Linked DNA regions of Homo sapiens. The protein of the gene in region 1 interacts with the protein of each later gene in a biochemical or structural test. Each region holds a gene or a part of one and is shown in the gene's direction. Other genes may lie near its edges.

What was found.
Region 2: of the proteins of MAPK10 (region 1) and KIF5A, one has a biochemical effect on the other in vitro, tested with the Homo sapiens proteins (one study listed by BioGRID).
Region 3: the proteins of MAPK10 (region 1) and DUSP9 form a complex in vitro, tested with the Homo sapiens proteins (one study listed by BioGRID).
Region 4: the proteins of MAPK10 (region 1) and PKMYT1 form a complex in vitro, tested with the Homo sapiens proteins (one study listed by BioGRID).

The regions. Positions count from the first base shown.
Region 1 is NC_000004.12:86,009,888-86,014,072, reverse strand, and holds the end of MAPK10 (mitogen-activated protein kinase 10), read left to right. Parts: 3' UTR 1-3,668; downstream 3,669-4,185. UniProt on the Homo sapiens protein: Serine/threonine-protein kinase involved in various processes such as neuronal proliferation, differentiation, migration and programmed cell death.
Region 2 is NC_000012.12:57,574,018-57,581,053, forward strand, and holds part of KIF5A (kinesin heavy chain isoform 5A), read left to right. Parts: intron 1-1,066; coding exon 1,067-1,255; intron 1,256-1,622; coding exon 1,623-1,740; intron 1,741-2,069; coding exon 2,070-2,134; intron 2,135-2,251; coding exon 2,252-2,361; intron 2,362-2,743; coding exon 2,744-2,845; intron 2,846-3,695; coding exon 3,696-3,756; intron 3,757-3,991; coding exon 3,992-4,063; intron 4,064-4,220; coding exon 4,221-4,325; intron 4,326-6,938; coding exon 6,939-7,036. UniProt on the Homo sapiens protein: Microtubule-dependent motor required for slow axonal transport of neurofilament proteins (NFH, NFM and NFL). Can induce formation of neurite-like membrane protrusions in non-neuronal cells in a ZFYVE27-dependent manner.
Region 3 is NC_000023.11:153,643,044-153,650,225, forward strand, and holds the start of DUSP9 (dual specificity protein phosphatase 9), read left to right. Parts: upstream 1-4,159; 5' UTR 4,160-4,382; intron 4,383-4,875; coding exon of another isoform or gene 4,876-4,910; coding exon 4,911-5,283; intron 5,284-6,188; coding exon 6,189-6,644; intron 6,645-6,936; coding exon 6,937-7,182. UniProt on the Homo sapiens protein: Inactivates MAP kinases. Has a specificity for the ERK family.
Region 4 is NC_000016.10:2,972,292-2,977,466, reverse strand, and holds the end of PKMYT1 (membrane-associated tyrosine- and threonine-specific cdc2-inhibitory kinase), read left to right. Parts: exon of another isoform or gene 1-398; coding exon of another isoform or gene 399-435; coding exon 436-803; intron 804-1,654; coding exon 1,655-2,148; intron 2,149-2,810; coding exon 2,811-2,917; intron 2,918-3,049; coding exon 3,050-3,222; intron 3,223-3,309; coding exon 3,310-3,467; intron 3,468-3,982; exon of another isoform or gene 3,983-4,213; coding exon of another isoform or gene 4,214-4,251; coding exon 4,252-4,329; exon of another isoform or gene 4,330-4,402; coding exon 4,403-4,514; 3' UTR 4,515-4,659; downstream 4,660-5,175. UniProt on the Homo sapiens protein: Acts as a negative regulator of entry into mitosis (G2 to M transition) by phosphorylation of the CDK1 kinase specifically when CDK1 is complexed to cyclins. Mediates phosphorylation of CDK1 predominantly on 'Thr-14'. Also involved in Golgi fragmentation.

The DNA.
Region 1 (4,185 bases):
TTTGTAGGAAGGATGGCTGTGTACTCATGTGCAGGGAAAATTAAACTGCTGCAAGAGTTTGGCAAAACCGCCACCACTTTACTATTAATATGTCTTTACTATTTTTATATGTGTTTTGTGGGTCAGCGTGTTCAATTTTAAATAGGAATACACTAGCCTTACAACGGAATTTCTTCTTGTGGAATAAAAACTGATAATAACCTTTCATCTTCAAGAATCTGATGACTGAGTTTTGTAGGAATGTACCCAACAGTTGGACCAGAGCCTGGCCAGTTCCCACCAATTGGAGTAAGCTATTTAATTGAGGGTTAAGAAGCTCGATAGTTTTTTCAATCTGTTATCAGAAAAATATTATCTAAAGACACTGATAGCAGCTGACTGGTAAAACTGAAAGTTGGCCTTAGTAAATGGAACTAGTAAAAAATAGATAAAAATATGTAAAACCTTTTATGTCCTGTCAAGGAAAAAAAAATAAGCAAACTTGATTTGTTTTAAAATTGTAAATATTCATTGCAAAACCTAAATTATACAAAATCTATTTCGATTTGAATCTCTTAACATATGAAAAGCCACATCTTAAGTGCATTATGCTCTGTAAGGCATGTTATTAGCCAGCTTTGCTGAAAAATGTATTCTTCTACAGCTCAGAAAGAGGAGTAAAATTGCTCTAGAAATTTTTGATCTCAGCCACTTTGCATCCAAAGAGGAACCCAACTCCCCACTCACAATCCCCCACACACATTTTAATTATAAGAGTTCAACATTTTCCACAGATATCATTAAGCCAAGCAAGGAAACTCCTCTCTGTAAAAACAACAAAAAAGTTGCAATGTAAATAGTTATTTTAGCTATTTTCTTTGTGATTAGAGGATAAGATTTTGTTATTTCTTTTGGTACTTAGTCCTTTAACTATCTGAAAATGGCTCACTTTGACCTGTTTCTTTGGTCAGCCAAACTGAAGTGAGGGGCCTCTGTTTATATATAGAATCTTGTATATGTAACTTTACTTATGTGGGACCAATGGCCAGTATATTCTAATGGACACAAATCTCCCAATCCTTATGTAGGATTATCTGTTCACCTTGCCATGTCCATCTTGCAATGAGACCTAACTTGCACCTGCCTGTTTTTCTGCATGATTGGACTCCAAAGACTATTACCAATGATGAGAATTGTCTTGTGTCAGTGTTTATAAAATGGACTTAAAGCACACACACATGCATACCCACATTCACATGCACCCTTACAGTTCTAGATCAACCCTGGAAGGCAAAACCATGTACGTCCAGTTTCTTTGCAAGGTCTGAGCAGTGAGAACTAAATTCAGTCAGTCTAATGGGTAAAATGCAACCTCAGTGATGCTTAATAAGGATTTGAAATCGTTCAAGTCATTTCTGTGTTCTTTCTCACACCCTTTCCTTTCTATTTTGTCTTCTTTTATTTTCAAAATGTCTGTGGAACAAGAGGATGAATCGGGGGAGAACTTCTGCTTCTTTTGACTCTTTTTAGGTAATATGGAGTCAATATATTATGATTTCTGTTTCTTATGGATTATTAAAATCAGAGGAAATCTGCTTCTCTCAACATAAAACCAAATCCAAACCCAGACATTGTTGGAGTTTGCCTGTTGACAATGGTTATGATGCTGCTCGTTGTCTTGAGTTGCATGTAACGACAGTAGCTCTGAAGGGTGTCATGATTTCATTTTGGCAACTGGTAAAAGAAACTTGTAGTGTGGTCTGATTGTGCCAGGGAATAAATAAGAAATAAGGAATGACCTACTTTCTCACCTTGGGTCAAGAGTGTGTGATATGAATGTGACCATGTAGAAATCTGTGTTTTCATTTGACACTGGTTTCTTCTAAAACTGACCTTCATTTCTGTCTGTAGATACTAGTTGTATATCTGCAATTCAGTAATTTCTTTTTAAGGTATAAAATCAATGAAGAAAAAAAAGATCATCTTTTGGGGGGGCATTAGGTAAGTAGAGCAGGGTTAAATTTCCCAGATTAATTATCAGATTTCTATTCATTTTAACTATTTTCCAAGAGAAAAGGTAAAAGCCTTTGTTTAGCTACATGATATCCAACTTTACTATCTCAAACTCCTTGGAGAATTAAAAATATATATGATTTTGTGGCTGGATGAAGAGGTCACTGCACTTGCATTAGTTTACTTTGCAGTGTTTGAACAGTTGAGGAGTGGCTCTTCTATTTCTGTAAATAATGTTTTATTTAACCAATTAACTATTAGAAAGCCTGGAAGATAAACATACACATTATTTTGAGTTATCACATTTATCGTTTTACCTAGTTCCTGTTGGAATATAGAAAGCAACAGCTTTTTGTTATCTCTGGAACAGCTTCTATCCTAGTTTAAATCACAGATCCTTACTCTCTTTAAAAAAGGTCAAGCATAGGTACCTAAAAATACCCACAATAATAAGAAGGGAAATTGCATTCCACAAGATGATTGCTCTTAAAGAGTCAGAAGGAGTTATTGGTGCATTCCTGATACCATAAATGGTTACCAAACATTTGGTAATTTTGACCAAGTTCACAGTAAGGAGAAAAAAGGGTGTTGGACTTGCTTTTCTTGAAGATTACTTATGGAGCAACCAACCTAGAAGGATGAATCTACTTGCCAATAACAACACTGGATCACAGCCAAGGCAGAGGTTTTTGACATTCCCAATTCATCATGGTGGTGTTTTGTATTTGTAACATGTCTTTTCTCCACAGATGTTGAAAGGCATGCTTGGATGACACATGCTAATAGTGAAACACGCTGAAAGTCCTGCCATCACAGATCACTTTATGTTGGGAGCCACTCTATGTGGCAAGTCATCTGTCCCAGTTCCAGACTAAATTTCAACTGTTCAACCATTTACATCATTGTAGTCTGTTTAAGGCACTAAAAATGTGCTGTAGAAATTTATATTTCTCAGACACATGAAATGTGGTGACACATCCAGCAACAAGTCAAACACTCCTTTGAAATTTTCTACCTTATGTCAAATATTTCTTACTTTTAAAGACATTCCTATCCTGGTGTAAAATCCAACATAAAATAATTTGAGGGAATTTAAGGAATTCAAATTTCACTCCGTGGGGTACGTGGCTTTATTTCTTAATCACTGAACTTCTAGTAATGTTCTTCACCTGATCTTGTCTGCGATGTTTAACCAACAGTCCAGATCATTTGCAACTCAAAAGCAGGTACAAAATGTTATCCATCTTAAAAACCCCTCACATATTCCCTAGAAGACTGTCCCACACATAATTCGCCTTCCATTAACACTTGTGAACCCATCCTGGTGAAAATATTGCCTATGAACAATTATACCAAAAAATCAATTTTTATAATGCAAATAATATTTTACACAGACCAAGAGAATTCATAATATTAAAGTATTTCTTTTATAAAAGGAAGGTTTTCAGAAAGCAATGGCCTATTCCTTCATGTTAATACATTGCGAACTTGGATTTGGTGTAAATCAAGCCCTGAGAATATTGCTCTGAATTTCTAGCTTAATTTCTGAGCAACATTCTAAAGCAGTTCATTAATTTACTCCAAAAACATTTCTTGGACACTTCGGTGTAGGAGATATATATTGCATGGTCCTTAACCTAAAAAATTCAGAGTTAATAAATCTTTGTTTAAAAAAACTAAAGCAAATATTTTTATTTCATTTATTTGCTATCTTTTTACAAAATGTATTTAAATTAGTGGTGTGACTTGCACGAGTCCATTTTTATTATTTGCTTAAAGCGATGAAACAAGGAGTCTGCTTCTTTCAATGTTCTTATTTTGTCTAATTATATAAGTATACTTCATGAATCAGCATGAGAATTTTGAATATTTTCCATTACAAGAGATGAAACCACTTTTAAAAATTATTTAAAATTTAAAATTCATTTTAAAAATGCATGGATGTTCTTTTCCGCATTGCAGAAAGTTTGCTTTGATGTATGGTTCCTCTGAGAGCTATTGGACCTAGATGCTGACTGAGCATGGGGCTTATACTTTTGGCATCACAATCTCCAAATTAGCAAATGATATCACAATGGGTACTGAAGCTTCTTTGCAGTGACATTCTTACATGAAGCCAAATCTTCGGAGTTTGTTCAGTCTATGGGTGACTGTTGGAACCCTAAAATAACTTAAAGTAGAATTTGGTCATTT
Region 2 (7,036 bases), on another chromosome or scaffold:
GCTTGCAGTGAGCAGAGATGCGGCACTGCACTCCAGCCTGGGTGACAGAGGGAGACTCTGTCTCAAAAAAAAAAAAAAAAAGCAGCAGCAACAGAGCAGTGCTTGCAGTAGGAGTTAGAGGTGGGGCATAGGCACAGAGTTCAGAATGAAATATGCAAATCTGTGGATGTGAGAATAATCTGGGTGATCAAGGAGATCAAAAGAAAATCATGTTGCTTTATAAGATTTATTTGTAAGTGGGGGACTGTCAGAATTGGATTTTTTTTTTTTTTTGAGATGGAGTCTTGCTCTGTTGCCCAGGCTGGAGTGCAGTGGTGTGATCTCAGCTCACTGCAACCTCCGCCTCCCAGGTTCAAGCAATTCTTCTGCTTCAGCCTCCCGAGTAGCTGGGACTACAGGCACACACCACCTCTCCTGGCTAATTTTTTATGTTTTTAGTAGAGAGAGGGTTTCACCATATTGGCCAGGCTGGTCTCGAACTCCTGACCTCGTAGTCCACCCACCTCGGCCTCCCAAAGTGTTGGGATTACAGGCGTGAGCCACCGAGCCCGGCCCAGAATTGGATTTTTTTTTTTTTTTTTTGAGATGGAGTCTCACTCTGTCGCCCAGGCTGGAGTCCAGTGGTGTGATCTCGGTTCACTGCAACCTCCGCCTCCTGGGTTCAAGCAATTTCCTGCCTCAGCCTCTTGAGTAGCTGGGATTACAGGCATGTGCCATGATGCTTGGCTAATTTTGTATTTTTAGTAGAGACAGGGTTTCACCACCATGTTGGTCAGGCTGGTCTCGAACTCCTGACCTCAGGTGATCCACCCACCTTGACCTCCCAAAGTGCTGAGATTACAAGGCATGAGCTACTGCGCCCAGCCAGAATTGGATTTTTAAATGCAGGCGGAGGAATTTAATGTGAAATGCCGCTGATAGAGAGCTGCTAAAGGTCGTTTGGAAAATACCCATCCCATTTGAGTCCCTGCGTATGTGGGTGTGTATGGGTAGGTAGAAGGTGGGAGGGAACAGATAAAGCTTCCCAGCAGCCAAGAAGCATCTCTTCCTCCTTTAATCACCTTAGCCAGTGGAGATCAGTGGGGCCATCGAGGAGGAGTTCACTGTGGCCCGACTCTACATCAGCAAAATCAAATCAGAAGTCAAGTCTGTGGTCAAGCGGTGCCGGCAGCTGGAGAACCTCCAGGTGGAGTGTCACCGCAAGATGGAAGTGACCGGGCGGGAGCTCTCATCCTGCCAGCTCCTCATCTCTCAGGTGAGTGCCTAAGTTTGAGAACCTTCAGATGCCATGGGAGAAAGAAGGCTACTCTGGGGTTATGGCTAAAACTCCTAACACCCACCTTTATGTCAAAGTTCTGGGGTCAAGTGAAATCAAGGACAGAAAAGCTGGGGTGGCAGGGGTGCAGATCAGGGCCAAAAAAGTAAAGGCTCAGGGCGGGTACTGCCCCCTGAGCCATGGGAGCTAAAGGAAGAGCCCCATAGGAATGGCCCCCAACCCTGCACCCTCATGGGAAGTGTAGCAGGAGGGAGGGCTGGGAGGAGAGCTGGAGTTGGAGATCTGTGTGGCCTGGGTTTGTGTCCTTTGCTCCATCTTCTTCCTCTCACCAACTTTCTCCCACCAGCATGAGGCCAAGATCCGCTCGCTTACGGAATACATGCAGAGCGTGGAGCTAAAGAAGCGGCACCTGGAAGAGTCCTATGACTCCTTGAGCGATGAGCTGGCCAAGCTCCAGGCCCAGGGTGAGGCCTTCTTATACCTCCATCCCACTGTCCAGGGCAGAAAAGTCAGAAACATCAAAATAAATCACCCCAATAATCACTCACTCAAAGCATTAGCTTGAAATCATGGATGCCAACTCATATGTTAGCCAAGGTTTTGCATGTAGCTCATTTTACATTAACCATACACCCTTGTTCTCTGTTCCTGCTATATCAAATTGGACAGTCCTAACACAGAAGAACATCCCTGTGGGTCCATTCCCAGCCCTGCCTGGAGTTCTGGTCACAACGTGAAGTTCTTTCCGAAAGAGGTAGGTTTGATGTCAGCTGTCTTCCCCTCTTTCCCTTAGAAACTGTGCATGAAGTGGCCCTGAAGGACAAGGAGCCTGACACTCAGGATGCAGATGAAGTGAAGGTGAGTAAGGAAGGTGTCAGGGACAATTGGGGCCTGGTGTGGTGAAAGCTGTGCTGGCCCTCACAGAGCTTGTTGCTGGGAGTCTGGCCTTTGAGCTTGGGGTGGGGTTGTTTGCAGAAGGCTCTGGAGCTGCAGATGGAGAGTCACCGGGAGGCCCATCACCGGCAGCTGGCCCGGCTCCGGGACGAGATCAACGAGAAGCAGAAGACCATTGATGAGCTCAAAGAGTAAGGGTTCCCAAGGGCGACTCCAGCCCCTCCCGGGTCCTGTCACCTTGCTGTATTGACTCACATGTCCCCTCTGGGTCTGATTCTTTAACATCCATGTGTCATTCCCTCAACAATGCCACAACTTCGTAGCCCCACCTCAGGAGACACATGGAATAACGACTAGTCCCTATCCTTGAGGGTCCCAGGATTAGAGAGGTCAGGGTTCCTGGCTCTGTCATGGAAACAGTGGCCTGAGTCTGCCTCTGGTATCTGAAGGTGGACACATCAATTCTAACTGGACTCACTCGTTCAAAAAGGAAGAAGTTTGAAGAGCTGGCCTTCCCTTCCCCCTCATTAACATCTTTCTCCCCCATCTCCATTACCTTCTGATGCTCTGTAGCCTAAATCAGAAGCTCCAGTTAGAGCTAGAGAAGCTTCAGGCTGACTACGAGAAGCTGAAGAGCGAAGAACACGAGAAGAGCACCAAGCTGCAGGAGCTGACGTGAGTGGCATGGATTTACCTGTAAAACTACAGCCTTGTAGGCTCAGAACTGTGAACTCAGACACGCTTGCAGAGGCAGGACACACATGCAGACATGATAGGGTGACTCATGGGAAAAATATGATGGGGTAGGGACGGGACCAAAAGGACACTCTCAGCAAAGACTGCCGTTGAGTATTCACCAGTATGGAAGGAGGTTTACGTGTTCTATTCAGTGTAAAAACAGGTTACAAAACCATATGCATGGTATGATCCCATAAAAATGTATACATGGATATGTAGGCATAGAAAAAAGTCTAGAAAGGTGGACACCAGAAGGTTAATGTTGGTTTGATCTGTAAATAGTAGAATCATAGGCTTTTTATAAAAACTCACCTTATGTCTCTCTTTAAAATTCTTTTCTAATTTTTGCACAGTAAACATGAGTAACTTGTGTAATAAATAATAATAGGCTGGGTGCGATGGCTTACACCTATAATCTCAGCACTTTGGGAGGCCAAAGCAGGTGGACTGCTTGAGCTCAGTAGTTCGAGACCAGCCTGGGCAACATGGCAAAACCCTGTCTCTACTAAAAATACAAAAATTAGCTGGGCATGGTGGCATACGTCTGTGGTCCCAGATGCTTGGGAGGCTGAGGTGGGAAGGATCCCTTGAGCCCAGGAGGTTGAGGCTGCAGTGAGCCCTGATTGTGCCACTGTACTCTATCTAGCCTAGGTAACAGAATGAGACCCTGTTTCACAAAATAACAATAATAGTAATACTTAAATGGAGATAAAAGTAATAGAGGAAGAGGCAGGAGGAAGGAGAGTCCTGAGGGATCTTTCCATTTCCCTTATTTCTCTTGCTACAGATTTCTGTACGAGCGACATGAGCAGTCCAAGCAGGACCTCAAGGGTCTGGAGGAGACAGTTGTGAGTGGTTCCCTTCTGTGCCAAATTCACAGGACTGGGGAGTGGGGAGGCTTCATTTCTTCCTAACCCTATTCCTCCTGCCCTTTTGCAGCCATTCTGTAGCGTAATCAAGACACATTTTTTCCTAAAGGATAAGTGACTCACTTGATTATAGAGACTGGAGGTACCTATAATTCTGGAGGAATAGGACAGACCTGGTATCTGGCTATTCCCAATTTTTCATCATTCTTTCCAGGCCCGGGAACTCCAGACCCTCCACAACCTTCGCAAGCTGTTCGTTCAAGACGTCACGACTCGAGTCAAGAAAGTGAGTGCTGTCCTTGGGGTTTTGTCAGCCCCCACATCCTCCTCCTATCCTTAGGTTTCTCCTGCCCCTGTTGCCCCTATGGGGCTGGCTTGGCCTGGTCTTGGTGGGACCTGTTTGGCCTCAGGACAGCCACGTCTTTCCTTCTATCTGTTCTCAGAGTGCAGAAATGGAGCCCGAAGACAGTGGGGGGATTCACTCCCAAAAGCAGAAGATTTCCTTTCTTGAGAACAACCTGGAACAGCTTACAAAGGTTCACAAACAGGTAAGAGTCTGCTGAAGGAGTGAAGAGAATTTTTGAGGCCGGGTAGCTAGCATACCAAATCCTCAGAGGCCCCTTGGATTCAGGAAAATCTAGTTGCATGTTTTCCTTACTGTTCGCTTTTACTTTCCCTACTAATCCCTTCTTTATACCATATTTGGTCCACTTGTACCTTGTTCTTTGTTTCATGCCTGTATTCCCTTCTCAAAGTTTCTAACCCACCTCTGCTCAAAGTGGAATTCCCCAGGCCTACCTTGGAGGGAGAGGTTGAAACTAACAGAGGCATGGGCTGTAACTATACAGGAGGGAGACTGGTCAGACGTTACCCAGAGATGGAAGGCAGGGAGATGAGAAGAAGCAAGGGAGTTGGGCTTCTTTCGTGGAGAGAACTCCATCTGTCTAGGTCTGTGGCAGGCATGCAGGGACATTAAATGATGTCCCTGGCTAGGCACAGTGGTGCATGCCTGTAGTCCCAGCGCTTCAGGAAGCCGAGGCGGGCGGATCACTTGAGCACAGGAGTTCAAGACCAGCCTAAGCAACATGGCGAAACCCCATCTCTACAAAAAATACAAAAATTAGCCGGATGTGGTGGCACACACCCATAGTCCCAGCTACTTGGGAGGCTGAGGTAGGGCAATTGCTTGAGCGCAGGAAGTAGAGGCTGCAGTGAGCTGTGATCATGCCACTGCACTCCAGCCTAGGTGACAGAGTGAGACCCTGTTTCAATTAAAAAAAAATGATGTCCCTAAGATGGCCCAACCAGCCCCTGGTTGGGGCCCCAGTCAAAACTCCTGTGTATTAAGTTGCTGCCTCTCTGTCCCCCTCCTTGCTGTTGCGGTTCTTTAGGTGGATGACTGGGTTTCAAAGGTATGGGCTGGGGATGCAGAAGGGCAGTCCAAAGGAGTCAGGACAGGAAATGTTTGGTGCATGCTGGGTAGGGGCACTCTCACTAGCACTAAATATCTGAGCCTTGAAGACAGGCTCGGCAGGCTGTCAACTGGTCCTTTTAACTAATTCATAAAATAAACCCTAACCTATACTTCATTCCTTTCCTTTCAAATCTACCTTAAGATTCCATTTAAACTTACATTCTCACTAGCCTAGCACTTAAACTTCTTTTCCTCCCAGTATAATGCCCAGCTTATATAGTAAATATTCAGTACTTTTTTTTTTCTTAATGAATCCTAAACCTGTGCCCAGTGATAATGTACAGAGTTTATTTATCTTATTTAGGCCTGCAGAGGGCTTTGCTACGATTTTATTTCCTTTATTATGAAACTGAGTAACAAAATTATAGAAAAGTTGAAAGGCAGATAGGAAACATTTGAAATCAATTCTGCCATTCGATTTTCATTCCCGCATTCACTTTCCCTCTCTGTCCAAATCCATATTATGTTGCTTAGAACACACACACACATGTGTGTGCTACTCTGGGCCTCTCTGCCTATGGGAAAGCCCTGCTCTATGGAGCAAGCCCCAGAAAAATTTCCATGAAAAAACACAACCACACACTGTTTCCTTTATCGTCACTGAAGCCTCTGCCTCTGTTCAAAGTCCCAAAAAAACAAAAATGACTCACCTATAGGATAAATAGAGGACTCACTACAATTTCCTACCTCAGCAGACACAAGAGTAAAAAGGAAAAGGAGATAAAAACTTCTCAGTTAAGAGAATCTTAACAGCCAGGACTATAGCCCTATATCAATTAAGCTAAAGTATTGTCACAGCAAAACATTGCTTATACTCCATAAATTGTCCAAATGGAAACTGCATGGAAGGGTTTCTAGCTTGTCCCCTTGAGCCCCCAGTGTTCCCCGCTATGCTGATTTACCCGCTGTCTTCCAAGGCCCTGCTCCTTTTGCAACCTATAGTGCCCCCAGTCATTGTGTGGAACCTGTAAAAAGATCAGGAAGTCTTTTCGGGCTGCAGGGTGGTTGCTCCCATGCTCTAGCTTAATTTCACTGGGGGAGGGATAACCCAGGAAGTCCTTGAATGTGAAGGTAATGAGTGCAAATGTTTGTGAGACCTCAAACATTTTCTTTCCTTCCTACGGGGCGGGCTCTGCCTGTCTATATGTGTATGTCAGGGGCTCCTGAATTCCAGCTTCTGCTCCTGCTCTGCACTGCACCTGCCATGCACAGATTCTCCTCAATGCCACAGCCACCAAACTGCTACTGTGCCCTTGCTGCCCCACCCTTTGCATGCCCACAAAGCCCTCTCTGGGGAAGCGGGTCCCTCATCCCCATGGCCGCCCTGGGGCTATTGATCTGGCACATGCTGGGAGATGTGGGGGAAACCAGATGGAGACAGGACAAGGCGCTCTCACAAGAGTTCTGGGCTGCAGTGGAGATGGCAGGTTTTACTGCCTAGAAAATTATATAACTTTTAAATGCCTGACCACCCACCCTTCGCTCTGGGAGAAGGAATGAGCTGGACAGAACAGTCCATTACATAAAGGCAATGAGGCCTTTTGAGGAAATGACATGGTCTCCATCTTCTCTGACTCCTGATTTTTCTTTATTCTCTCTCCTCACCCCTGTCCCCTACGCTCCTCTGGGTGACCGTCTTGGGTCACTTGCCTTCCTTTCCACTTCTTCCCTTTGGCTTGCCCCATAGCTGGTACGTGACAATGCAGATCTGCGTTGTGAGCTTCCTAAATTGGAAAAACGACTTAGGGCTACGGCTGAGAGAGTTAAGGCCCTGGAGGGTGCACT
Region 3 (7,182 bases), on another chromosome or scaffold:
CCACCTCGAACTCCCCATCTGCCCATTACAGACACCCCACCCACGTTGCCAGCCCAGAGACACTGCAGTCCACCCATCCTGGAGCGAGGTCCCGTCAGAAACCCACATCCCAGTGGCTGACGCTCCCCACGTCCCAGGCACACACCTCCAGCATCTCCAACGCGCACTCTCATCCACCCCAGCACGCGCGCACACCTGCTGGATTCACGCTCTCCAGCATCCTGCCCCGCCCCCATCACAAATAGCCTTCGACACCCCCCAGCACATCTCTGAGTCCCTCCCTCCCTCACCCCCAACACCTGGCACGCGGGCTCTAGAGGCTGCAGCATTTGGTGGCATCCCTGCCAGGCACCTCTGGCTCCCCTTCGGCAGAGGCTCAGCAGCCTTGGGCCCCCCAGGTGCCTCCCTAAACAGACCTTGAGACTCCCCAGCGACTAGCTTGGCCTCTTCCCTAAGAAATAAAGAAGGCACTTTGGGGTCCAAGGTAGGGTACTTAGATGTGGAAGCAAGGGGCCCCGGGGAGGGGCGGGGAGGCGGCGGAGAGAGCCCGGCGCTGAAATGGAGGCGGCCCAGGTGGGACCAAAGGGGCGCCAGCTGCCCGGCAAGCACGTAGTAGGTGGGTTCCATGGGGGCTGGCGTCCGCGCGCGCTGTCTGGGTGCCTGCCTGCGTGTGTGTTACGGGGAGGGCTGTGTGTGCACGTGTGCTTGTGCGTGTCGGGGTGGGGGAGGAGTGTGTGATCGGCAGAAGGAAAAGCAGGAGCAGCTCCCTCAGGCAACAATTGGTTTCATTCATTCATGCCTTCTTTGTTAACGAGCATTTCTTCCGCGAGCGCCGGGCGCGTGCCAGGCCCTGCACTGGGGGCTGGGGCCAGCCTGGGGCCGGGCACACACCCGTTCCTGCCTTGGAGGAACTCCCAGTCCCGCGAGGAGACCGACCAGGAAAAGCAGAAAGCCATCCCCAGCAGAAAGTGGATTTGGTGGAAAAGACACTGGATTTGGCAGGCACGCTGTCGCCGGGACTTGTGCTCTTGGCCATGTGACCCGGCCGCGACAGCCGAAATCCTGTCACTCGGCCCGGCGGGAACGGTGCATCTCGTGGGGGAAGGCGGCGCGGCGCCGCTCTCGGGAGGCTCCCGGGACCAGAGGGCGCACGCGGCGCGCGCGAGGCCTGCAGGCGGCGGCGTCCCCGCGGCCTCCAGGGGGCGCTGGCCCGGCCCGGCGGAGGCCCGGGGCGCCCGGCGGGGGCGGGTGCGGGGGCGGGGGCGGGGGCGGCAGGCGCAGCGCCCACCCTGCGGCGGGCAGCGAGCGCGCGGCCTGGCTCAGCCCGCCGGAGGGGGCCAGACGAGGCCCGGGCGCGCGGCGCGGCCTCCCCCAGCACAGCGCACCCGGGAGCGGCTGCCGGCGGGGCGGCGCCCAGAGCCGGCGCTACAGGGGGCCTGAGTGGGGGCGGCCCGGCGAGGGTCGCGGGTGAGAGGGGGATTAGGGGGTTGGCTGCGCTCAGCCCTGCAGTGCGGAGGTGGCAACAGGTTCCCATTTGTCCTGTTGCTGGCGCTGCGGGCGCTGTGGGCCCCGAGCACTGAGCTCTGACTTTGGAAATTGAGCCCCTCATGGCCTCCTCCCAAATGCTTTCTCCCGGTGCGAGGACTTGGCAGCAGGGCTCCGCAGTTAGGTGCAGGGGAGCCCCTCGCCAAGCGTCGGGAGACGTGGACCCTTGGATCCTAGGCTTCCCCTCCCTTCCCCATTGCGGAGGTTGCCTCTCCCCGTCCTCATTCCAGCCCAGCTCCTCTCACCTCCAGGGAACCCTCTCCAGAGAGCGCCACTGAGCAGCTCAGGAGCTCCCTCTCTAGCCGAACTGAGCCCCCACGGCAGGGCGGGCCGGGGAAGTGGCTGTCCAGCTCCCTGCTGGTCACAGCCCTGCGCCACCCCCACTCTCCACAACAAGACTGGCACATGGCAGAACCTCCGTGGTGCCTTCAACCCCTGCCCACTCTGAGCTCCCACCCACAGCTGCAGTGGGCCTGGAGGCAGCCCCCAGGCTGGGTGCCGGTGTCCACCTCCACCACTGTGGAGCTAGGCTGTGGACAGAAAACAGAAGACAAAGTCCCTGCCCCAGGAACACACTGAGAAAGGGGGAAAGTGACCACACTAGGGAGCACAGAGGAGGGAGACTACTGGCTCCGAGTTGGGAAGGCTGCCTGGAGGAGGGGGCCTGAAGAATGAGCAGAATCTCAGAATCTGGGCAGGGGGCATAGGAGGGAGGCCTGGGCTGGGGCCCTTGCCCACTGGGTGAGAGAAGGAAGGGCACAGTCCAGCTGCCCAAAGCCCTTGGATGCAGGAATTAGGACTCTTGTTAGACGCAGGGACATGGGGGGTGTGGCCGGAAAGCAGCCCAGTGCCAGGGTCCTGGGAGTCCCCGGCTAGCAGCCCACTGCCCGAAAGGGAGGGAGAGAGGCAAACTGGAAGCCCCTTAGAGGTGACCCACCTAGCTTTCCGTCACCTGCCCTCTTACCTAACCATGACCTGAGACATTTTCTCCTCTAACTCCATGGCTCCTGAGAGGAGTCTTTAGACTCGTAGTTTGCTTTGCATTTTCCACTTGTTAGAAAAATGCTTTGTGGTGCCCATCCTCGTGTGCATAACTTTGCTTTCTTTTACTTTAGTTCCTTAGATTCCCAAAAGTGGTCAAAGGGTTGGGATTTTTTCCTAGCTCTTGATATTGCCAGATTAATTTCCAAAGGGGCCGTACCAATATATAACCCTGCAACAGTTGAACAGCACGCTGATTTCACAGCAATCTTGCCAGCACTGCGTGTTCTCAAAAATGAGAACATTTCTAATGCAGTAGGTGGGAAGTGTTACCTCGTTGGTCATTGTTACTTGTTTATTGGAGTGGCTTTCCTTCCACGCCTGAAGTTGAACCTTCCCCCAAATATTTGTTAGGCCACCGCATTCCCTCCTTCCTGCAGTATGCAGTGTTTTCAGGTTCTTTGCCCATTTATCTACAGGGGTCTTAACCTTTTAGTTGGGTATGAGCTTTATCTTATCTGGCGTACATTTTCCTTCAACACTGTTATTTGCTTTTGTTGAGCTTTAAGCAGAGAAGGGACTTTTAGCCAGATCAGCATTGTGGACACCTCCCCCTGACCCTGGTCTCCTGCCTCAGTGCTCACCACACCTGAGACCTTGTCCAGTGCTCTTGCTGCCTGTGGATCTGTCCCGCCTGTTGTGCCCATGGAGGAAAGGATGGAGGCCACCAGCCTTGGTTGAGTGGATGGCATTCTGACGTTGGGCAGGGCTGGGCAGGGCAGGGTGGAGGGCAGGTCGTTGCAGGCCCGGAGGCAGGGAGACTGTTGTGCAAGACGTGACAGTGACCTGGCCTAAAGCTGATGAATTTGAGCCCTCGGCTAGGGCAAGGGACAGGGGAGAGAGGCGTGGATGTGAGAGATATTTAGGTAGAAACTAGTTCTTTCCACTTTGATTAGCCGAAGGGGGGTTAAGGGAAGGAGGCAGAGGGGGGAGCCACGGGTGACTCTTAGGATCAGTAATGTGATAAGAGCAGAGTGCCCCAGTTTAGGGCTGGGAGCTCAGGGTTCCTGGGTGCTTTTGGCCAGTCCTGTGCGAGTGAAGCGGGCTGGTATTGGTAGGTATCCAGGAGCTACCCCTGCCTGCCTAGCCCTGCAGCAGACCTCTGGGCCAAAGCTGCACTAAGTTTCTGGTCCTGCCTCCTCCTCCCCTCCGTGATTTCGGTGGCATCCCAAGTTTGCCCAAGCTGCTAGCTCTGAGCCCATTACAGAGATGGGGCCACTGAGATCCAGGCAGGGGAGAAGATGCTCCAGTATCACCCTGTGAGTTGGGCTGGAGGCAGCTTCTGCGGCAGAGGGGCTGGGCTCTGGTCCTCACCCCTCCCCCTGCCTCCCGAGGCCAGGCTGGCGCCGGCCAGGGGAGCCGCAGCTGGTCCCCTGCTGGGCCCCTGACCTGCCCTTGGCCTCTGCCCCGACCCCGTCCCGCCTCGGTGGAAGCCCCAGCTCAGCCGACTCGCAGGTCCCACCCGACTGCTTCGGCTAGCACCCGTTGGCTCACCGGCCCGCCGGGCCCGCCCCCGGAGCCCCGCCCCGGCCCGCCCCTCGGAGTTGTAACTCCACGTCCGAAGGCAGTTTCCAAGGTGGAAGCTGGGTCCGGCTGCCAGGAAGCGGCCGGTGCGCGGGCTGCGCGGGCTGCGCGGGGCTCGGCTTCCACGTGCGAGCCTGCACCGCCGCCCCGCCCTCTCCTGGCGGCCAGGCCTGGGGACTCTCTGCCGCGGGACGGCGCCTCGCGTTCCGCCGTGGCAGTGGCCGTGGCCAGAACGTCCACGCGCGGTCGTCCACCGCCGGATCTCGCTCCAGGTCTCTTTCCTTTTGTTCTCTCCTAGGGGTAGGGGGAGATGGGGGACCGGGGGCCAGACCACCTCTGAGAGGACTCGCTGAGGCCCAGCACCTCGGCGCCTCCTCTGTTCCCCTGGCCCACCTGGCCCTGGGGGAGATCTAGGCCTCGAACGGCACTCCTCGCACGCACACCCCCAGCCAGAGTCGGAAGCTCGAACTTGGGGAGCGTTCGCGAGAAGACCGAGACAGGAGCAGAAAGGGGGTATGGAGGGAGGCGGCTGCGACCTCAGGGTACCCCAAGATGAGCCTCGAAGGGGCGGTTAGCCGCTCAGCCCTCTTCTCGAGGACCCTTCCCCGGGCCGAGCTGCTGCCTGGGGGGTTTCTTGGGGCGCCTTGTTGGGAGTCCTCATGGTGGGGGACCCTGGGCTCCCGCCTTCAGGACGCGGGGCCGGCTTCAAGTCTGAGCCCCCTCGGCCCTCCGGTAGCTCACACCGCGCCTTCTCTCTCTTCGCAGCGCCCGTGGTCCAGCGTGTAGGGAGCCGATCGCCCATGGAGGGTCTGGGCCGCTCGTGCCTGTGGCTGCGTCGGGAGCTGTCGCCCCCGCGGCCGCGGCTCCTGCTCCTGGACTGCCGCAGCCGCGAGCTGTACGAGTCGGCGCGCATCGGTGGGGCGCTGAGCGTGGCCCTGCCGGCGCTCCTGCTGCGCCGCCTGCGGAGGGGCAGCCTGTCGGTGCGCGCGCTCCTGCCTGGGCCGCCGCTGCAGCCGCCCCCGCCTGCCCCCGTGCTCCTGTACGACCAGGGCGGGGGCCGGCGCCGGCGCGGGGAGGCCGAGGCCGAGGCCGAGGAGTGGGAGGCCGAGTCGGTGCTGGGCACCCTGCTGCAGAAGCTGCGAGAGGAAGGCTACCTGGCCTACTACCTCCAGGGTAGGTGCCGCGGGGCCCTCCTTCCAGGGGGTTCGGGATTCATTTGACCTTAGGCCAGCCCCACTTCTTTTTTTCTAAAGCGAGTTGAGGCCCCCCTCCCCTGATGACCTGCCAGGCTGCTTTGAGAGGAGGGAAGCCTGAGTGTGACCGTGGGGAAGTTCTTCACCCTCGGCAGCCCAGTCTCTGAGCCTGGAAAATGGGGAGAATTAGCCTGACCTGAGCTAGTTCTCAGGATGCTCAAGAACGAATTACAAAGTGCGGGCTCCCCAGGGTCTCGGCAAGGGTATCCCCACCTCCCCAACCTGCTCAGGAATGAGCAAGGGAGGCAGGGGTCAGACAGCACTGGTGCAATCACGGCTCACTGAAGCCTCCTGGGCTCAAGCGATCCTCCTGCCTTAGCCTCCCGAACAGCATATAAAGTGTCAGGTGTCCAGCCCGGGGAAATAGTATCTGTAAATAGAGATGCTGGCTTCTTGAGCCATATTCTCCCCCAAGTTCCCCCACATCTTGGGGTCCCACTTCATCCCTGAGAGTCAGGAGATGCCCAGGCAGAGAGCTGACATCTGAGTTCCTCCTTTTCTTTAGCTGATGGCCGCAGTCCTCCCTAAGGCTGGCAGTGCATCTCGGCTCTGTTGAGCCCTCACACCTGCCTCAGCTTGACCCTAGGGGTGTAAGATCCTTTCCGGTGGCTCAGCGTGAGCCCAGCTTCTTGCAGCCCGAGCTGACTGAGGGTGGCTAGGGCCCCACGTGGGTACCAGGACACACCAAGCTGCTGGGTTTTGTGTTCCCTTTGGGAACATTTGCAAACCCTCCAAGTTGTCCAGGGTCATCTCCCCAGCCCCAGACAGAGGCACTTGGCTGCCCAGAAGGCCAGGTCAGCAGGCCCCATGCCCTCTCCCCAACAGGAGGCTTCAGCAGATTCCAGGCCGAGTGCCCTCACCTGTGTGAGACCAGCCTTGCTGGCCGTGCCGGCTCCAGCATGGCGCCGGTGCCCGGTCCAGTGCCCGTGGTGGGGTTGGGCAGCCTGTGCCTGGGCTCCGACTGCTCTGATGCGGAATCCGAGGCTGACCGCGACTCCATGAGCTGTGGCCTGGATTCGGAGGGTGCCACACCCCCACCAGTGGGGCTGCGGGCATCCTTCCCTGTCCAGATCCTGCCCAACCTCTATCTGGGCAGTGCCCGGGATTCCGCCAATTTGGAGAGCCTGGCCAAACTGGGCATCCGCTACATCCTCAATGTCACCCCCAACCTCCCAAACTTCTTCGAGAAGAATGGTGACTTTCACTACAAGCAGATCCCCATCTCCGACCACTGGAGCCAGAACCTGTCGCGGTTCTTTCCGGAGGCCATTGAGTTCATTGGTGAGTCCACCCCACCCACCCTTCCCTCCTGTCCTCCCCAAGGCCTGCTCTGGCCTCCCCCTTGTGAGTACTCCTCCCAAGCCCCGCTGCCATTCCCAGAGCCAAAAGCCTAGGTGACAGTTCTAGGGGACAGGCAGAGCTAGGGCGGCCCCCAGAGGCCACTAGAGAAACCTGCAGGTCGTGGCCATCTGGCCCAGGGGGCAGGGCGGGGCCTTTGAGGGCCCTTCGGAAGGCCTCGGCCTCACACACGCCTGCCCTCCGGGTCTCCCGGGCCCTTTCCTGCCCCATCTAGATGAGGCCTTGTCCCAGAACTGCGGGGTGCTCGTCCACTGCTTGGCGGGGGTCAGCCGTTCTGTCACCGTCACTGTGGCCTACCTCATGCAGAAGCTCCACCTCTCTCTCAACGATGCCTATGACCTGGTCAAGAGGAAGAAGTCTAACATCTCCCCCAACTTCAACTTCATGGGGCAGTTGCTGGACTTTGAGCGCAGCTTGCGGCTGGAGGAGCGCCACTCGCAGGAGCAGGGCAGTGGGGGGC
Region 4 (5,175 bases), on another chromosome or scaffold:
AAGACACTTGAGGGATTCCGGGTTTTCACTTTGGAATTGGAGATAAGGGATCGTGGGCCCGTGTAGTCTCGGAAGAGGTTGTGTAGTTTAGGATCAAAGAGCTGGCCGTGATGAGGGCAGGGATGCAGGCGCAGCCCGTCTGACTCCAAACTGCCTTGCTCTTAACCCGACTGCAAGACCCTCAAGAACACGGGCCCCATGGTTTTCCTCTTATGTTTCTATCATCTCTAAAATACAACAGCCTGGTGGGCAGGTGAGTATGAATCTGTCCTCTGCCTTTTCTTGGTAGGTGCTTATTGCTCCCATTGCCGTTTAAAGTAGAATAAGTGTGTGGTATAGACATAGCTCTCTTCTGTGGCCTCTTTGGAGCCACAGGGCCAGGTGGTATCAGAGTGGACATGCTGCCCTGTACTCAGCCTCTGTCTCTGCCCCCAGGGCCTCCTGCACTGGCCATGCCCATGCCCACGGAGGGCACCCCGCCACCTCTGAGTGGCACCCCCATCCCAGTCCCAGCCTACTTCCGCCACGCAGAACCTGGATTCTCCCTCAAGAGGCCCAGGGGGCTCAGCCGGAGCCTCCCACCTCCGCCCCCTGCCAAGGGCAGCATTCCCATCAGCCGCCTCTTCCCTCCTCGGACCCCAGGCTGGCACCAGCTGCAGCCCCGGCGGGTGTCATTCCGGGGCGAGGCCTCAGAGACTCTGCAGAGCCCTGGGTATGACCCAAGCCGGCCAGAGTCCTTCTTCCAGCAGAGCTTCCAGAGGCTCAGCCGCCTGGGCCATGGCTCCTACGGAGAGGTCTTCAAGGTGAGTGAGGGGACGGCTTCTAGGCCCATCTGGGGGACCTCCTTTGTGTTTCTGCACCTCCCTTGGCAGGACAGTGTCCTGGGCAGCCTGATCCCCTTCCGTTCCCTACAGCCTGTCCCTGCTGGGCTCACAGGCTCCCTCCACATTTGACTTGGCTGCTCCCATCATCCCCAATGCAGGCCCCTCCAGGGGTTGCTCTGTGCATACTGGCCCCTTGTCCAGAGTCTGGCACGCCCTGCAGCAGCCCCTGTGCCATCTCCTCCGGCCCTGGCGCCAGCTGTGCAGCGTCCTTGGCGAGTCGGCCCAGCCTCTGGCACTGGCCCTGAGTGCAGTGCCTGGCCAGCCCTCCCCAGGCTGGCAGGCTTTGAGCTACCCCCTGCCTGCCATCTTGCTTTTCTTAAACACAGTTTCCAGTCATTTATATTTTCTTTTAGAGAGGAGTTTTCCCTTGTATGAGTCCTGTATGAAGACAATTTTGTTAAAAAGTACAAACAACATTGGCCCCCAGGTCAGCTTTCTCACAGGGGAGCCCACTTTTCACACCACAGCCTGGGCTGCCTGTGTTGCTCTGCAGCTGCTTTTTCCACCTCGTGACACATCCAAGAGGTCCCCTGGGGTCAGTGCAGGTCGGCCCTGGCTCCTCCGTCGCTGGGTCTCCACAGACCCAGCCCGAGGGATGGAGGTTTGTCTGGTTTTGTTATTACCCTGGGCAGGGGTCTGAGACAGATGCCAGCTACACCACCGTGCCCCGTGTGTGAACCCTTAATGGGGTCTGCCAGGTTGTCCCCCTATGTGATTGTGCCACTTGTGGCTCACCCTCACTGTGTGCGTGGGTACCACCTCCCTTCCAGGTGCGCTCCAAGGAGGACGGCCGGCTCTATGCGGTAAAGCGTTCCATGTCACCATTCCGGGGCCCCAAGGACCGGGCCCGCAAGTTGGCCGAGGTGGGCAGCCACGAGAAGGTGGGGCAGCACCCATGCTGCGTGCGGCTGGAGCAGGCCTGGGAGGAGGGCGGCATCCTGTACCTGCAGACGGAGCTGTGCGGGCCCAGCCTGCAGCAACACTGTGAGGCCTGGGGTGCCAGCCTGCCTGAGGCCCAGGTCTGGGGCTACCTGCGGGACACGCTGCTTGCCCTGGCCCATCTGCACAGCCAGGGCCTGGTGCACCTTGATGTCAAGCCTGCCAACATCTTCCTGGGGCCCCGGGGCCGCTGCAAGCTGGGTGACTTCGGACTGCTGGTGGAGCTGGGTACAGCAGGAGCTGGTGAGGTCCAGGAGGGAGACCCCCGCTACATGGCCCCCGAGCTGCTGCAGGGCTCCTATGGGACAGCAGCGGATGTGTTCAGGTGGGGACCGGGGCACGCCAGGTGTTTGGCAGGCTGTGGGAGGCCCTTCCTGGGACGGAAGCTCCATTCCCCAGGAGGGAAGCTCCACCCTAGCCCAGGACACCCGGCCTCAGAGCCACAAGGCTGAGACGCCATCCCTGCCCTCCAGTGGAGAGCGTCTCTGGTCAGGCTGCCTGTGAGCCTCGAACCCTCCAGAGCCACTTTGTGTAACCTGCCTCCTCACAGCTCCACAGGAGAAACAATTGTCACTCCATTTACAGCCAGATTAAGGGCCTTGCCGGAGCCCACTGCTAGCAAGTGGCATAGCTGAGACTGGCCCTAGGTGCTGGGTTCCAGGGTCCACACTGGTAACCACTGCCCTGATCATCAGGATAGTAATACCTGCCAGCAGTAACTGTGGTGCCTGTCCATCAGGGCACTGGGAGGACTCACCACTGTGGCTTGTGGGCTCCCTGGGCACAGAGCCCATATTCCATGATGTCCCCATCCTGCCCAGGGTTCATGATCAGGCCTGTTGGGGTGTCCCTTCCCCCTGCTTCCGCCCCTCCCTGACTGATGAAGACAGCAGCCCTCTCCCACCCACCTCCAAGAGGCAGCCCTGGACTGGGTCTGTGTCCCAGGGCCAACCCTGCCCCTTTCTGTCCCCATCCCGTCCCTGCCAGTCTGGGCCTCACCATCCTGGAAGTGGCATGCAACATGGAGCTGCCCCACGGTGGGGAGGGCTGGCAGCAGCTGCGCCAGGGCTACCTGCCCCCTGAGTTCACTGCCGGTGAGTAGGTGAGGGCGGGAGGGGGTGCTGCCACGGGCTCCTGGGGAGATAGTGGCTGGCCATGGAGGCACTGCTGGGCTCAGGGTGCAGTCGGTGTTCTGGGACCCCGATGTGGCCCTTCCTCATGGGCAGGTCTGTCTTCCGAGCTGCGTTCTGTCCTTGTCATGATGCTGGAGCCAGACCCCAAGCTGCGGGCCACGGCCGAGGCCCTGCTGGCACTGCCTGTGTTGAGGCAGCCGCGGGCCTGGGGTGTGCTGTGGTGCATGGCAGCGGAGGCCCTGAGCCGAGGGTGGGCCCTGTGGCAGGTAAGCTCCCGACAGTGGCGGCTGCCTGCCCTGCTCCCCAGCCCCGGGGGTCCGCCCACCCACATCCTGAGCTCCTCTCCCCCACAGGCCCTGCTTGCCCTGCTCTGCTGGCTCTGGCATGGGCTGGCTCACCCTGCCAGCTGGCTACAGCCCCTGGGCCCGCCAGCCACCCCGCCTGGCTCACCACCCTGCAGTTTGCTCCTGGACAGCAGCCTCTCCAGCAACTGGGATGACGACAGCCTAGGGTGGGTTCAAGTGCAGGGTATGGGGGGCTAGGGGGAAGGTGGGGGATATCACCGGGGCTCCATGGAGATTCGTGGTGAATGGGGACCACTCCCACAAACCTGGCCCCCATCACATCCTGGGGAAGGGGACCAAGACTGGGGGTGTGTGGCCTGGCCAGGCTTAATGCAGCTGGGCATGTGGACTGGCCGTTCAGGGCATGGCTTCACACTTAGGGCACCAGCACCCCAGGGAGTGGCTGGCCGCGCAGCCCCGACCCCAGTGGAGGCTGCCAGTGCCCAGGGATAAAACATTGTCCCTTCTCTGGGAAGAGAAAGCCTCTGGAGTCTGGGGAGCCCTGCCCTGGGAACAAGTCCTTGGTCCCTGGGGCCTGGTGTCTTGAGTGAGAGGCTGTAATTAGGAAACCACACGCTCAGGGCAGACAGCTCTTGGGGACTCTGCCGTTAGCCCCTTCCTTACAAACACATCACCTCATCCCTCGGGGCACTTGATAGCAGACAAGAAGTTCCAGAAAGGCTTACATTTACTAAAAGTTTATTTCAAATCTGCCTCCAAGTCCATGTGTTCTGAAAAGGACAGAGGGGGCCTTGGAGTGCAGCCAGATGGAAGGACTTTGAAGGCTGTCCAAGTGCTGCTTTCAGAGTGCACCAAGTTTTTATTGTCCCTGACTGTGGCTCCCTGCCTGTTTGTCAGGCGGGAGCCTGGAGCCTGCACAGGGACAGAGCTGGTTTCATCCGGCACTCCCTAGCCCTGGACACCCTCCTTGTCTCGCCTGCCCTCCTGCAGGCCTTCACTCTCCCCTGAGGCTGTCCTGGCCCGGACTGTGGGGAGCACCTCCACCCCCCGGAGCAGGTGCACACCCAGGTAAGCAGGTCCAGGGGCTGGGGTGGGCAGGGCTAGCTTTTGGATCCTGAGTGTCACTACTCTCTCCTCCCAGGGATGCCCTGGACCTAAGTGACATCAACTCAGAGCCTCCTCGGGGCTCCTTCCCCTCCTTTGAGCCTCGGAACCTCCTCAGCCTGTTTGAGGACACCCTAGACCCAACCTGAGCCCCAGACTCTGCCTCTGCACTTTTAACCTTTTATCCTGTGTCTCTCCCGTCGCCCTTGAAAGCTGGGGCCCCTCGGGAACTCCCATGGTCTTCTCTGCCTGGCCGTGTCTAATAAAAAGTATTTGAACCTTGGGAGCACCCAAGCTTGCTCATGTGGCAACATGGCCCTTCCTGTCCCTTTATTGATGTCATCCAGGGTCTTAACGCCCCTGAGGCTGAGCCCTGCTGCAGAACCCAGCGCTCCTGGCCTTGGGCCAGCAGCTGAAGCCCCATGCTGTGTGGAGCAAAGAGGTTTCCTGAGCAGGCACATCCCCCGGTGGGTACCTGGAGCTGTTGGGAGTATGGCACTCAAGGTGGAGGGCAGGCACGGCCCAGGGGTCCCAGGATCTGAGGCCGCTGAGCTCCCTGTGTCAGTTTCCTGGAAGAAGCAGCTGCAGCCCTTGTGCCTGTGGCCAGCTGGTACAAGACGGGTCCACGCCCCCTTGGTCCTTTTGTCCTGAATGCCTTACTCCATAGTCTCTGGGCAGAGGGAGCCAGGGCGGGCAAGCTTGTGGCTGCTGGGAGGGCTGGTATGCAGGGCAGAAAGATGGAGATCAGGAAGACTGGCCACAGGCCTGGTGGGAGGAACAGGATAGGGTGAGGAGGCTCTGGGCTGGCGG